Homo sapiens: one gene and its partners. The protein of the gene in region 1 purifies or fractionates together with the protein of each later gene. This does not show direct contact. Each region holds a gene or a part of one and is shown in the gene's direction. Other genes may lie near its edges.

Region 1 (3,841 bases):
ATATTGGCGGGAGGTGGGGGCTGAGGAGGAGGCCAATGGCGATCGCCTGCCAGGGGGCCGTGGAGACCAGGCTTGGGATGTGGGGCCTGTCCGGCTCAAGAAGAAAGTGAAGCAGTATGAGCTGACCCAGCTAGGTGAGGAGGGCTGGGGGGAGGGGGAGGGAGGGATGTAGCTTCAGTGGGGACTGGGCAAGTTGTGTGAAGAAGTTAGAGATGGGATGCTCTCTGTGGACGGGAGAGTGACCCCAGATGTCCCCCTAGCCATTAAGCCCTGTAACCTTCCCCAGTCCCTGGCCGGCTGTACGAGGTGAAGCTCGTGGCTTTCAACAAACATGAGGATGGCTATGCAGCAGTGTGGAAGGGCAAGACGGAGAAGGCGCCGGCACCAGGTGAGGGCGGTGGGGGAAGAAGGCGGGGAGGGCTCAGGTGAGGGCTCTGCTAGCCGCTTCCTCTTCTTTTCCTTTGGGCCAGCCTGGTGAGCAGGTACTTTAGTAGCCTCAGCTCATGCCCAAACCCATTCTCCTAGGATCAGGGGTCCTCTTTTAGCTCCAGAGAGCCTCTGTCATGGAGAGAAGCTTGTTTGTTCACTGTCTTAGGCCTGCCACCTTATTTGCATTACCCATGAATAGTGCTGATTTCCAAAGTTTGAACAGAGGGAAACCCTATGGTTGATCAGTAACTCCCGACCCCAAGTTTGACTGTAAAACAAGTTTTTTTAAAAACACATTTGTCTACATCACACTATCAGACTATCTCTCAAGTCTAAGAAGAGTGAGTATCCCTGTGTGACCTAACGGGAAACTGAGGCTCAGAGAGGAAAAGGAACTTGTCCAAGGTCACACAGAGCCTAGGCTACAACTGGGACTCCTGGTTTCCAGGCAAAACTCTTTCCACTGCACTACACTGCCTTGTGGCCCTGCATTGGACACCTCAGTTGCCCATCATGATACTCCCTCACCCCTAACTTCCCAGCCACATGGTTTAGCAGAGGGAGTAATCAACCAGAAGCCATGAAGCTTGGGTTCTTTTTTTTTCTTTTGAGACAGAGTCTCACTCTGTTGCCCAGGCTGGAGTGCAATGGTATGATCTCAGCTCACTGCAACCTCTGCCTCCTGGGTTCAAGCAATTCTTGTGCCTCGGCCTCTTGAGCAGCTGGGATTACAGGTGTGCACCATACCTGGCTAATTTTTGTATTTTTAGTAGAGACGGGGTTTCACCATGTTGGCCAGGCTGGCCTTGAACTCCCGACCTCAGGTGATCCACCCATCTTGGCCTCCCAACGTGCTGGGATTACAGGTGTGAGCCACCACACCCAGCTGAGTTCTAATTCCAGTTTGTTCATTTCTTCATTCAGCAAATATTTCGCTGAGTGTCTACTAAGTGCCAGCTGCTTTGGGAATTTAGTGGTGGACAACACAAATAAGGTTCTTGCTCTCTTGGGGTTTATTTTATGTTTCTAAAATAAACACTTATAAATATAGTGTTTATTATATTTCAATTTCCTATCTATTTTTAAAATATTAAATAATTTAATCCTCATAACAACCCCATGAGGTAGGTACTATCATTAGAATAGTGAATGGAGACACAGAGAAGGTAAGTAATTTCTCCAAGGTCACACAGCTAGTAAGTGTCAGAGCTGGAATTTGAACCAAGGCAGCCTGGTTCCAGAGTCTGGTTCCATGGTTATTCATTGCTGTGATTTGCTGCCTCTCTCTTTATTACGTTCTTACAGACTAGTGTTCCACAGTCAAAAATCAAATTCTTGGAAGCCTCAATTGCCTTATCTGTGAAGTAGGAATGATGCCACTCAACTCACAGGATCAAAGGAGTGGGTCAAAGAAACAGCCTTGGGAACTGTAAACCACTATACATATTTAAGGATGAGTATCCTCCCTCCCTTCCTCACACTCTAGTTTTCACCTTTCAGACATGCCTATCCAGAGGGGACCACCCCTGCCTCCAGCCCACGTCCATGCGGAATCAAACAGCTCCACATCCATCTGGCTTCGGTGGAAAAAGCCAGATTTCACCACAGTCAAGATTGTCAACTACACTGTGCGCTTCAGCCCCTGGGGGCTCAGGAATGCCTCCCTGGTCACCTATTACACCAGGTGGGGACTAATGCCTTTACTAATGTAAAGAAGGGAGGAAGAATAGGTGGGGGGTGGTGGTGGGAAGGCAGCAGGTGGTGATCAGGGAAGGGCCCCTGGGATTCAGGAACATGTCATGGCTCACCTGTTACGCTGAGGCCACACAGAGGGGCTGCACAGGGTCCACGTCCTTGCCTGCTGACCAGATGGTAGCAAGGAGGCCATCCAATCCCGTCCCCTCACAACAGAGCCTTGTTCTCAAACTCCGGAGAATGTGACACAGGACAGACCTGTTTCTCCAACCTCAGAGGGCTCCCAGTCTGATGGTGAAGAGAACCCCACCCCTGTCCTCAGAGCTGCTCCCTCTACCCTGTTAGATGGGGAGACAGAGCCTGAGGAGCCTGAGGTTTGGCGGAGGAAAGTCGCATAAAAAGCAACCGATATATACAACTGCCATGAAGGCAAAATTAAGCCAAAGAAAAGATGCATCGGAGATGATTCCATAGGTGGAGAATAACTTGGATTAATCCAGGAAGGTTTCCTGGAGGAAGGGGTCTGGTTTCGAGATTGGACTTGGAGCAGCATACATCCAGACTTCTCTGTAGGTCCCTGGGTGGTGGTAGTCGCCTCCAGGCCAGGGAGCAGCTTCCCTTCCCAGGGTAGAGCCTGGGGCTGGGGCTGACTGCAGGGGAGTAGATTTGGAGGAGTCTGCCCTGCTGGGAGAGTGTGCCTGAGAGCACTAGTCACGTTTCTTGCCTTAGCAGTTCTGGAGAAGACATCCTCATTGGCGGCTTGAAGCCATTCACCAAATACGAGTTTGCAGTGCAGTCTCACGGCGTGGACATGGATGGGCCTTTCGGCTCTGTGGTGGAGCGCTCCACCCTGCCTGACCGTGAGTGGCTCCCAGCCCCTTGCCACCAACCCATCTTTTGCCCAACTCCTTCTTGCCCCAGCAGCAAGAAACATACTTCAGAACCCCAAGGTTTGGGCAGAGCTGGGGGCAGAAGAGTTTCTGGGAGGGGAGGAATGTTAAGTCCCTCCAACCACACATACTGTTTTCTAGAATTCCCCAACTAGAAACCAGACCTCATCTTTGCTTTGTGGCTTGTTCCATGAAGGAGGAAGAAGGGAGGTCATATCATCATGCTCTGTCCCCCAGCTCTGACATCTCTCCCCATCTCCTCTCCCGCACCCCAGGGCCCTCCACACCCCCATCCGACCTGCGACTGAGCCCCCTGACACCGTCCACGGTTCGGCTGCACTGGTGCCCCCCCACAGAGCCCAACGGGGAGATCGTGGAGTATCTGATCCTGTACAGCAGCAACCACACGCAGCCTGAGCACCAGTGGACCTTGCTCACCACGCAGGGTGAGGGCTCCTGCCCCAGGGCATCTGCTCAAGAGCTTCCCAGCCTCTCCCGCTTCCAGCAGTGAGAACAGTGCTGGGGTTTGTTCCAGGGGCTACTGGGAGAAGCAAGCAGAAGCTGCTGCCTAAGTGGAGAGCAGACTCTCCCAGTCCCCTCCCTGCCCACCTCTGCATCCACCCACCCCATCCACCATCCCTGCTCTCCCTGCCTCCCTCACCCCCAGGAAACATCTTCAGTGCTGAGGTCCATGGCCTGGAGAGCGACACTCGGTACTTCTTCAAGATGGGGGCGCGCACAGAGGTGGGACCTGGGCCTTTCTCCCGCCTGCAGGATGTGATCACGCTCCAGGAGAAGCTGTCAGGTATGAGCACAGGGCAGCCCAG
Region 2 (3,841 bases), on another chromosome or scaffold:
AAAAAGATAGTATTTGTCATGGTCCTGGACCACATTGAAGACCCAATTAATGTGGATGGTATAGGATTTGAAACTTGAGGAGATTTGATTTCTCAACTGTGGGCATTGCAATGATCATGAATACTAAGAGTTAAAAAGGGAGATAACGAAATGCATCCAGTCTACCAATTATTACTTGAGTGCCTGCCATATTGTAGAATGTTCTAGGGACAAATATGGCAGAGAACAAAACAAACCAAATCTCTGCCCCCATAGCTACTTGTTTGGAAGTTGAAGAAAGAATGATGAGAAAGAGACAATAAACAAATAAATATAGTTTGTTAGATGGTTGTAAGTGTCACACAGAAAAATAAAGCAGGCCGAGGGGATCATGCCTGTGTGTGTAGGGGCTGGCTGGTGGATGGGTGGATGAATATTGCCATTTTAGAAAGGGTGGTTTATTCTTGTTATTAAACCTTAATGTTTTGGATCTGCCTTGAAATACCAGTGTGAGTGTGAAGGCTTAACATCAACTGCATGTTAACTTTATTTTCTGTGGTCTCTACTGGGGGCCCAGAAGGCAGAATGCTTATTAATAGTACCTGAGCTGTAGAAAACATGGATTTCCTTCATAGTACTTGGAAGGAAATTCATATTTAGCAATCCCTAAATACACATTTTAAATATGTACCACAGTAGTGTGAGAATTTTTATATTAACTATTTTTGAGAGACAGTCCTGATAGCGAGTTTATCAATTTCATTAATCTTTTCAAAAATATCAACTCCAGGCTTTGTTAATTTTCTCTACTGTAAATTTTTTACCTCATTGATTTCTCCTCTCATCTTTCATTTCTCTGCCTTTTTTAAATGTTCAATATGCTGTTCTTTTTTTAATTCTGGAGATAAGCTTAGATTATTGATTTTTAGCCTTCTTATCTAATTTATCCATTGAAGACTATTAAGTATCACTTTATCCTCTTCCTGCAAGTTGTGATATTTGTATTTTCATTATTTACATGTTTTCTGATTTCCAGTATTATATCTTCTTTAACACATGGGTTATTTAGAAGCATATTCATTAGTTTTCAAACAAATGGAGATTTTTTCACTTTCCTCCCTTAATTCCACTGTGGTCGGAAAACATACTCTATGATTTGAGTATTTTATAATTTTTGAGATCTATTCTGTGGTACAGCATGTTATCTATTCTAGTACATGCTCCATGGGCAAAGGTGTATTCTGTAGTTTTGGGTTGTAGTTTTGTCTGTGTCAGTTAGGTGAGGTTTAATTAAATCTTCTGTACTGATTTTTGTTTATTTGTTTTTGTGTTTGTTTGGTCCGCTTGTTCTATCAGTTACTAAGAGAGCTTTGTTAAAGTCTCTCATTGTGATTGTAAATGTATTTTTTTATTTGTAGTTCTACCAATTTTTGGTTTATATATTTTGAGGTTGTATTAGGTATGTACAAATTTAGGATTGTCATATCTCTCCATTGAATTGATCCTTTTGTCATTATATAATGTCTGTCTTTACTGCTTGCCTTAAAGCGTACTGTGTTGAATATTAAAATAGCAATATCAGCTTTCTTTTGGTCAGTGTTTGCATGTTATTTCTTTGTCTCTCCTTTTATTTTTAACATTCCCTTTTCCTTATATTTAATGTGTTTCTTTTTTCTAGTAAGCATATAGCTGATTTTTTTCCCTGTTTTATTTATAAGACAGTTGATAATCTTTATCCTTTTAATGGGACTATTTAACTTATTTGCATATTATTTATTGATCTATTTGGGTATTAGTAATTAGTGGTTAAATCCTTAAAACTTTGTTTTCAGAATATGGCAGCTTTTTAGGGCATTAACTCATATGCTTTCTTTAAAAAAAAAATGCTGTCCTCTCAGTAGGGAGGTGTCATGCTGAGCCATGTTGTCCACCATTTGAAAGCAGCTATTTAGACTGTTAGAAGACACTGAGAGTGCCAGGATGCAGCTAGCTGGGAGCACCTGCTGACACAATTTTGCATTTAGCTGAACTTGCTAAAGCAGCCTTCCTTTTCTCTGTTGGTCTCTACTTGGGGTTTATGCTGTGAAGTTGCTGACTCTTTTAAAGAAATGAAATAAGGCGAACAGTGTCCTGACCTGAGTGTGAAAGTTTTTTGGCAGATGAGTTGAGCCACGTGCATGAAGATGACCCTTGGTGGGATGGCTCATCTGGGCTCTTGTGCAATTTGTTAAGTCAAAGATTTTCAGAGTAAATAGTTCCTCTGCTCATCCTCATTGTGGTAACACTAAATAGCAAACATTTCTTTGTTGCTGGGATTTCTACTTTCTATAATTCAATGTGAACAATCTTTACTGTAAGGCATACATTATTTACCCACATAAATGTCTTTCTTAGAATTCTATGCCATCTCTATACATGACTTGTATGTTGCTTTTTCCCATTGGATTTTAAAGCAGATCTGCTTTTATTTTGTTTTTTATATTGGAGTTCACCTAGGACTGTCTTTGAACAAAGTCCACGGCACCTGTATCACTGGTAAGGGGCTTCAGTGCTAGGCTCAGGACTTTTGTGTTCTGACTCTGAATATTCATAACTCCCTGGAGATATTTTTCAACAAAATACCTTTCATCATCTGAAGTTTCTTGGAAGTTAAAAATTTCAATTATATTTTCATGCCCTCTTTTTGGTTTGTCCTATGTTCACCAGGCTCCTTTCCTTACAGAATAGTTTTTGTGTCTCATTCAATCTCAAGATTTGCCATTTATCCCCACCTTTAACTTTGGTTGCCCTTTCAAGAGCTTTTGTAGAACTTAGATCTGCACCCCTTCAATTGACTTACATTGCTCTTGTGTTTTGTGTTTGTGCATTCTTTCTCCCTCTCTGCTGTAACCCTTGACACTAACATTGCACATTAAAGTGAGCTATTATCAAGAGCTATTTTAATTCTGTAAAGATTCCTACTCTACACTTAAAGGAATGGTTTGTTTTAAATTGGAGGTATGTGCTTCACTTATCCCTATTAAAATAACACGAACTTGTCTTCTTTGCCTTTTATCATTAGGGGCCCAAATCCCAGCAAAGTGCTACAGCAGTTGTTGGTGCTTCAACCTGAACAGCAGTTAAATATATATAAAACCCTGAAGACTCATCTCATTGAGAAAGGAATCCTACAACCCACCTTGAAGGTATAACTGGATCCAGAGAGGGAAGGACTGACAAGAAGGAATTATTCAGAAAAACACTGACAGATGTTTTATAAATTGTACAGAAAAATAGTTAAAAATGCAATAGGTTGAAGTTTTGGAGATATGTTTCTCTCTGAAATTACTGTGAATATTTAACAAACACTTACTTGATCTATGTTATGAAATAAGTAGCAAATTGCCAGCAAAATGTCTTGTACCTTTTCTAAAGTGTATTTTCTGATGTGAACTTCCTTCCCCTTACTTGCTAGGTTTCATAATTTAAAAGACTGGTATTTAAAAGAGTCAAACACTATAAAATGAGTAAGTTGACGATGTTTTAAGATTGCACCTGGCAGTGTGCCTTTTTGCACAAATATTTACTTTTGCACTTGGAGCTGCTTTTAATTTTAGCAAAATGTTTTATGCAAGGCACAATAGGAAGTCAGTTCTCCTGCACTTCCTCCTCATGTAGTCTGGAGTACTTTCTAAAGGGCTTAGTTGGATTTAAAAAAAAAAAAAAAAGATTGTCTACTTTTCAAAGAAGTAACCATTTGCCAGGGGAAAACATTCTGCTTTTAGGTAGTTTCAAAATTCAGGGGAGGGAGCCTGAAATTTTTGCCATGATTGGTTTGTTAGAAAGAGCAGGCATCAGACTACTTCTGATAAAATTGTTTGGA
Region 3 (3,841 bases), on another chromosome or scaffold:
TCTACCTCAGTGATTTAGGACTAACTCTTCCTAGAATGTTTAGTTACAAAGATAAGCTTGCACATATAAATACGTTATCATTCCAAACCCACCTCCTCACAGAATGTGGGAAGGTCAGGATTCTGACCCCTCTGTCTTTCCTTCTCTTGTCTCTCTCCTTCTCCGAGACTGAGCCTCTTGATTTCTGACTCTCATGTTCACTTATAGTCCTCGACCTCTTTGAAGCCTGATATTGATTACCGTGAAATGTCAATTGTCTGATTGCAGTAGGGCACCTGGAAGTTATTCAGATAAGCAGAGGCGTTTTGAATGTTAATGAAGCCTGTTGGGAGCCGTGACCTTCTAAGTGATGGTGTTTCAGGAAAAGGAAGATCAGGCAATTGAAATGTCGTTCTCTTTTTTTACTAGTTCAGTTGCTTTTTCTCACCACGAGACACTCATTGAATCCTAGGGCATTTTGATTAAAGATATGACCATGTATCTCTGCCCTCTGGACAGTTTTAGACATCGAGATAAATAGGCTGTTCCAGGTTTTCTTGGTGTTGCTCATTCAGACTTAACTTTTCAGCAGTAAATTTCCCCCTAAGTCAAGTGAAAACTGCTGTTTCTCCTTCTATATTGGTTGGGTCTCCAACTAAAAAATATTGACTGATTTTCAAACATGCGCAGAAATACAACTGAGCATCCCAAGCAAGTCTGCACCTCCAGACATTTTTTAAAAAATATCTCCTGATGGAGCTTTTATTTGGTTATGAAGTGAAAGGGCTTAGCAGCTTCAGACACCTCACTACATTGCCTGCTCCTTCCTTGCAGGTATGGGATGGAAGGCTTGCTGTGGGGGAAGGTGGCTTAGTAATGAAGGGAGCCCATCTCAACTGGGGCTCGTGGGAGAGTAAATTAGGCCCTCTAGGAAAAAGTTCAAGGGAGTCTTTGTGAATTCTCCCAAGGATGGAACATTCTAGATAGGAGGGATAGAAGCAAATCATTCTATACGTTGGAAGCATTGGGGCTTCGTATTCTTGTGGAACCTTGTTGAGAAGGGCAGGTGTCATCCAGGAAAGAAGGGACCACAGTACTTTGCTGTGCAGCATGGGGAAAAGGGAGCATTTATGGACATCAACCAGGATGAAGCTTTCCTCCTGATTTTCAGAGGCTTCACTTTTGTGCTTTTTATCCAAGTCAGGTTAGTGCCCAAAACAAAGCAAACAAATAAAGGCCTTTATTTTAAGCCAACCTTGTAACATCTCCATTCATTCTACAGCTCAAGGTGAGGCTCCCCGAGGACCCCACATTTTAGTGTGTGTGCATCACCCAGAGTACAGACTTTGAGCGATGCCTGTTATCTAGCTGCGCTGGCTCATGTTCAGCAGTTGCAACAGCTCCATGGCTGCAATGGCTCAATATCAGCAGTTCCTTCCCCACTCAACCACAACTTCAACAGTTCTAAATCTGTTTTTGGCCAAGTCTTCAGGATATAACTTTGCCAGCAATATCACCTTGTTTATTAAGCCCTATCTTCCACCACCTGTCAGAATCTCTGGTTTATCGAGACCACTGTAACACTTTAACTCCTCTTTATGAAGTTGAGCATTATAGACAGATGCTGTGGTTTGTGGAGCCTTGGTAGTCTCTGATTATATATGTGTCTGTGTATGTAGATATACATATACGCAGACATATATAATTATGTATGTACACATATTATGTGTGTATTTCCTATCATGTTGGGTGAATGCAATCAGTAGACTTGTTCCATATTATCCTCTTATAACTAGGATTTTACAAATGCTTTCAGAGTAATTGGGCAGTAATTGCTCATTCCCAGGCCCATTGTCTCCCATGATGCCTTCCAACTGCATTCATGGGTGCTCCCAATCCAGCTCTAAACTGAAAAAGATAGGCCATCTATTCCGTAGGGTGGTTTTGTGCACTCAACAAAGGATAATTTCAGAAGATTATCAGAAACTGCCATGTACCTGGCACCCGCTTGAGGATGGCACCGTCTCCTCTTTGCTCAAGCACTGACATGGCTGCCTGTTTCTTAACTGCAGATCCAACCTGACACGCAGGGCCCTCCCCAGTATCCTTCTAGCCACTTTTGAACTCTACTTCTTCTAACTGTCCTAGCTAAACTGAACCATTTACTACCTTCTGGTAATAGTGTTGCTTTTCCATTTCTCTTTGACTGTTTATTGAGCCTGGAGGGCCCACCCTGCTCCTATTTCTTCCTTTACCATCCTTACTCCATCTCTCTCTTTTGATATTCCAAGCATCCACTGGAGTCCATTTCACTTGCCTCTTTCTCAAAAGTATTCCTGCTCCTTTCAACAGAATGGATTCTCTCCCTTTTCCAATCCCAGTGCTTTGTTTGGGCCTCTATCCTGATTGCCATCACAGCCTATCTCATTATTAGTTTGCTCTGTCCAGATCTTCGTGGCCCCCTCCATCACTGGGCTTTGAGCTTCCTGACAGTGGGAGTTTAGTTTTGAACTACACCCCTTTATATTTCACCCAGCACTTAAGTGCCTTACTAAATAAATACATTTAATTGGTGTAAAACACAGATTGGAGAAGGATCCCAAATTTTACGCTGTCTTGATTTTGCATTATATGGATCTCGCATTTGATGATCTGGCTATTTTGTGTTACCTGCCTTCCCAGTGTGTGTTCTACTGGTCCAAAAACAAAATGAAACAACAGGACAGATTCTGGGTCAGCAAATTTGGGAAACTTGCCCACCATACCTCTTCTCGAAGACCCACAGTCCACAGAACATTTACCTAGTAAAGGAGCCTGATTTAACTTTATTAAATATACTAAATTTGCTTGACCTCAGAACTATGATCCCCTCTGCATTATATACACACACACTGCACTACACTTCTATGAGAAATTCTTGGTAGTGTAGATGGTGCTGTGTAATGGACAAGGGCTTAGGACAAAGGGCTCCATGGTACAAGAACCAGGTGTTGAACCCCAGTAAGACAATACCTGGGTTCTGAGCAGAGAGAGGGCAATGAAACCATCCCAACAACTCTCTCTTCCCTGACTGGGATAGGGCACCTCTTCTGCCAGATGCTGGATGGGGTGTGGAATGAAACTGATTCTTCACAAGAACAGAATTAGAATGGATTTGAGAATATTTTAATAAGTATCTCATGTGAAGCACTTGGCTTTCTTAAAAGACACAGCTAATGAGCTTTATTCTCTACATGAAAAGCAGAAAGGAATTTAGTAACCAAATGAAAGAGTTCCCAGAGGTGCACTCGGAACAGCCCCTTAACAAGGATCTGTCCTCCATGGAATAGCCCGTTTGCCGCCTTCTCCCAGGGTCCCAGGCATGCTGCTAAACATGTGGCTCAGAAAGGAGCCCACGCTGGTGTCTGGGAGGCAGTAGGACCGCAAAGAAATTCATACACAACACACTTGACCTGTAAAATTGCCATTTCCATTTAAAGTGAGCTCTACACCCAGCTAGATGAGCAGCTGGTCTAAGTTGTCACCATTTTTTAACTCTTGTGCCCACTTGCCACCAATCTGTCATTCCTGTTTGACGACACCAGTCATCTGCATGGCAGCTGGCAGATGCTAAAGACTAGCAGGAAGACCTCAGGACTGTGGGCCACCTGTCAGGGGAGTGAGGGGGCTGTCAGCTGACACTTCTCCCCCTTATCTAACAGTGCTGGGGCCAAGGACTGGAATGCAGGTTTGACCATCAGCTGATGTTTCCTGTAAACATAAAGATGAAATGGTTGCCTTTTGAGACTTTCGTAATGCAGAGACTTAAGCTGCAAGCGTGGGTGGAGAGGTTTGTTTTATAGTCTTGAACAAGGTTTCTGCT
Region 4 (3,841 bases), on another chromosome or scaffold:
GCTTAGTGACAGGTTAGTGCCACTGGGGCCATGTATTAAATAACTGGGAAGTGACAGTGTTGAGACTTACTCCCCAGACTTCGGAATTTAGAAGCACTAGAAGAGCCGTGCAGTGCAGGGCCAAAGGTCAGAGGCGCTGGACCCCGACCTCCAGAGCCCAAAGTGGCTTCTACCAGTATGGAATTCTGACAACTTACTTAAGCTTCCCTGAGCCTCAGTTTCCTTGTCTATTAGTACATGAGCAGGGCCTGCACACAGGAGATGCTTTTATTTATTTATTTTTTAGAGACAGAGTCTCACTCTGTTGCCCAAGCTGGAGTGCAGTGGCGCAATCTTGGCTCACTGCAACCTCCGCCTCCCGGATTCAAGTGATTCTCATGCCTCAGCCTCCCATGCCTGGAGATCAGCTGGGCAGGGCTGATCCTGGAGTCCTTGGCCTGTGACCCTGGAGCCAGGGTGGCCTCTGCTGTCCTCCTTGTCTTTGGGAAAGCAGAGGCAAGGTGCTTGGGTTACAGCAAGAGAGATCTAGGTTAGATGGTGAGACCTTCCTGATGGCTACGGTTTCACATCAAGGGAAAAAGGCTGTTGGTGGCAAATTCTGGACTTGAAGGCTGGAAGCCATGTGGTGGGGGATAGTGGCAGAAAAGGCAATTTTTTTTTTTTTTTGTTAAGACGCAGTCTCACTCTGTCGCTTAGGCTGCAGTGCAGTGGCACAATCTTGGCTCATGGCAACCTCAGCCTCCTAAGTAGCTGGGATTACAGGCATGTGCCACCACACCCAGCTAATTTTGTATTTTTAGTAGAGGTGGGGTTGCACCATGTTGGCCAGGCTGGTCTCGAACTCCCGACCTCAAGTGATCCACCCACCTCGGCCTCCCAAGTGCTGAGATTATAGGCGTGAGCCACCGCGCCCTGCCAGAAAGGGCAACCTTTAGTGAGGCCTGAGTCCCAGGCATTGTCCGAGGGCAGTTCCACACTGAGGGACTGCAGAGGCCGCTGCTTGGAAGGAAGGAGGGAGATGGGGTACGGGTTGGGGGGCGTTTAGGGCTCCAAAGCCTAAAGCCAAACCCAGTGCAGGAGGCTTCTTACAATCGGGGAGGAGGGGAGTCCTGTGAGGGGGAGGGAAGCTTACTGTGGGATGAAGGCCTGGGTTTGGAGAGGCTGGAGGATGGGGCAGCAGGTCCTAGCGGGGGAGGGCAGGGGAGCCTCTGGGCAGGTACGGCCTGACGCCCCGGGTCCTCCCGCCCCGCCAGGCCTGACGGAGGACGAGGACGTGCGCGCCATGCTGCGGGGCTCCCGGCTCCGCAAGATCCGCTCGCGCACGTGGCACAAGGAGCGGCTGTACCGGCTGCAGGAGGACGGCCTGAGCGTGTGGTTCCAGCGGCGCATCCCGCGTGCGCCATCGCAGCACATCTGTGAGAGGCCGGGGAGCGCCGGGCGGACAGGGAGGTGGGGACAGGCCCGGTCCTCCGCCCTGACCCGGCCCTCCTCTCAGTCTTCGTGCAGCACATCGAGGCGGTCCGCGAGGGCCACCAGTCCGAGGGCCTGCGGCGCTTCGGGGGTGCCTTCGCGCCAGCGCGCTGCCTCACCATCGCCTTCAAGGGCCGCCGCAAGAACCTGGACCTGGCGGCGCCCACGGCTGAGGAAGCGCAGCGCTGGGTGCGCGGTCTGACCAAGCTCCGCGCGCGCCTGGACGCCATGAGCCAGCGCGAGCGGCTAGACCAATATCCTGCCGGGGCTGGGAGGGAGGGCCCCATCCTTGGAGAGCCCTAACCTTGGAGAGCCCCATCCTTGGAGAGCCCCCACGCCCAGGGAAGGCAGGGCCCTGTCCTGAGGGCGCACGGTCTGGGTCGGAGCCCTTGGTCTTCGAAACTGAGGGTGGGGACACGCGCCCTGGCTAGGCCCAAGCTCCCACCAGGAGGGGTGGCGCGGCGCCTCCTTCAGGGAGGCCTGAGGCCTTCTGAGGGTGAAGACAGGGCCTCCTGTCTTTGGTAAGCCCCAGTCCTGCGGAGGAGACACTGCTACCGTGCTCGGGGAGTGCACAGGCCAAGGGGAAAGTACAGCCCCTAAACTGGGGATCCCCCAGACCCAGGTGGGGGTGACTTACCAGCCAGTTACCTGAGGGCTGGGGGCAGCCTGGCGTGTTGCTGTTATTTCCTGAGCACCCACACCTGGATCCACTCCTATCTGCACCGGGCTGACTCCAACCAGGACAGCAAGATGAGCTTCAAGGAGATCAAGAGCCTGCTGAGAATGGTCAACGTGGACATGAACGACATGTACGCCTACCTCCTCTTCAAGGTGGGCTTCCGCCCTGAACCCCAGCCCCTGGCTCTGCCATCACTCTGACCTCTGCCTGCCCCCAGCCATCTGAATCATCAGCTCCCCTGCCCTCTCCACCTGCAGCTTTTTTGGAGCGAGCAGCCTTTCCCTGCACAAAGGCAACATCTGGGGTTAGTTAGCCTTTTGCCTCCCCTGAGGCCACTGGGCCAGGAAGGGAGTGGGGAGCCGGGGCCCAGAACTTTCCTCATCCTCAGTTCCTACCCCTCCAAAGTGAGCAGCAAAGCTGTTTTCATTTCCCTGAGTCTGCAAGGCACCTTTTGCACGTGGGGGCACAGGCAGGAGCCAGCCTACAGGTGTGCATGTGCACGGATACACGTGTGCACCCTTCTCCACGCAGACCCTCCACTGTGGCACGTGTTGGCACCTCATGCATGGGAGCACAGGGGCACACAGGAGTGGGCTCTGCAGCTATGGCCCAGCTGGAGCCCATGGCAGACCTCTGTGTGCATGTGGATGGTGGGACCCACCTGTGACCCCGAAAGACAGGAGAGCCCATGGCAGCTGGACCCCTGGGCCACAGCTTCACAGGGATGCTCCATGAATTCTCATTGACTTGTTCAATGATGCTGGGTGTGAATATGTGCATGTCAGGATAGTAACGTGTCCACCTAGGGGAGTGTGAGGGCCCAAGGGCCCTGTCTTGGCCCAGGGTCACCATTTTTCCTTCCACATCTTGATTCCTGGGGTAGGTCATGGTGCAGAGGGGCAGGCACTGAACCAGAGAGACCTTTTAAGTCCAGCCCTGCCGGCCAGGCTCAGTGGCTCACCCCTGTCATCCCAGCACTTTGAGAGGCCTAGGCGGGAGGATTGCTTGAAGCCAGGAGTTTGAGATCAGCTTGGGCAACACAGCAAGACCCCATCTCTACAAAAAATACAAAAATTAGCCAGGTGCAGTGGTGCACACCAGTGGTCCCAGCTGTCCAGCTATTTGGAAGGCTGAGGTGGGAGGATCACTTGAGATCACGCGTTGGAAGCTGCAGTGAGCTATGATCATGCCACTGCGCTCCAGCCTGGGTAACAGAGCAAGACCAAACAAACAAACAAACCTAAAAAACAAACCAAAAAATCCTGCCCTGTAATTTACCAGCTGTGTGAGCTAGAGTCACAAGTCTTACTCTGTTTTTCCACCTGTGAAATGGGGACCATTGCCTTCTCAGATGTGGTAGATGACAGATGGGTCAAAGGGGCCAGGTTTCCTGGAGTGTCTGCCTCCTCTGAGCTTCTCCTGCTGCTCCCCAGGAGTGTGACCACTCCAACAACGACCGTCTAGAGGGGGCTGAGATCGAGGAGTTCCTGCGGCGGCTGCTGAAGCGGCCGGAGCTGGAGGAGATCTTCCATCAGTACTCGGGCGAGGACCGCGTGCTGAGTGCCCCTGAGCTGCTGGAGTTCCTGGAGGACCAGGGCGAGGAGGGCGCCACACTGGCCCGCGCCCAGCAGCTCATTCAGACCTATGAGCTCAACGAGACAGGTGGGGGGGGTGGCACGGCCAGGTCGTGGC

Evidence for each region. Proteins that work in one complex are often made in the same cells at the same time.
Region 2: the proteins of IGDCC4 (region 1) and CDS1 purify together in Homo sapiens (affinity purification with mass spectrometry; one large-scale study listed by BioGRID and IntAct). This does not show direct contact.
Region 3: the proteins of IGDCC4 (region 1) and ST7 purify together in Homo sapiens (affinity purification with mass spectrometry; one large-scale study listed by BioGRID and IntAct). This does not show direct contact.
Region 4: the proteins of IGDCC4 (region 1) and PLCD3 purify together in Homo sapiens (affinity purification with mass spectrometry; one large-scale study listed by BioGRID and IntAct). This does not show direct contact.

Annotation. Positions count from the first base shown.
Region 1 is NC_000015.10:65,388,427-65,392,267, reverse strand, and holds part of IGDCC4 (immunoglobulin superfamily DCC subclass member 4 precursor), read left to right. Parts: coding exon 1-134; intron 135-286; coding exon 287-388; intron 389-1,929; coding exon 1,930-2,113; intron 2,114-2,853; coding exon of another isoform or gene 2,854-2,856; coding exon 2,857-2,984; intron 2,985-3,289; coding exon 3,290-3,460; intron 3,461-3,681; coding exon 3,682-3,819; intron 3,820-3,841.
Region 2 is NC_000004.12:84,645,517-84,649,357, forward strand, and holds part of CDS1 (phosphatidate cytidylyltransferase 1), read left to right. Parts: intron 1-3,040; coding exon 3,041-3,170; 3' UTR 3,171-3,841. UniProt on the Homo sapiens protein: Catalyzes the conversion of phosphatidic acid (PA) to CDP-diacylglycerol (CDP-DAG), an essential intermediate in the synthesis of phosphatidylglycerol, cardiolipin and phosphatidylinositol.
Region 3 is NC_000007.14:117,225,891-117,229,731, forward strand, and holds part of ST7 (suppressor of tumorigenicity 7 protein), read left to right. Parts: intron 1-3,841. UniProt on the Homo sapiens protein: May act as a tumor suppressor.
Region 4 is NC_000017.11:45,118,785-45,122,625, reverse strand, and holds part of PLCD3 (1-phosphatidylinositol 4,5-bisphosphate phosphodiesterase delta-3), read left to right. Parts: intron 1-1,253; coding exon 1,254-1,415; intron 1,416-1,495; coding exon 1,496-1,724; intron 1,725-2,171; coding exon 2,172-2,301; intron 2,302-3,582; coding exon 3,583-3,811; intron 3,812-3,841. UniProt on the Homo sapiens protein: Hydrolyzes the phosphatidylinositol 4,5-bisphosphate (PIP2) to generate 2 second messenger molecules diacylglycerol (DAG) and inositol 1,4,5-trisphosphate (IP3).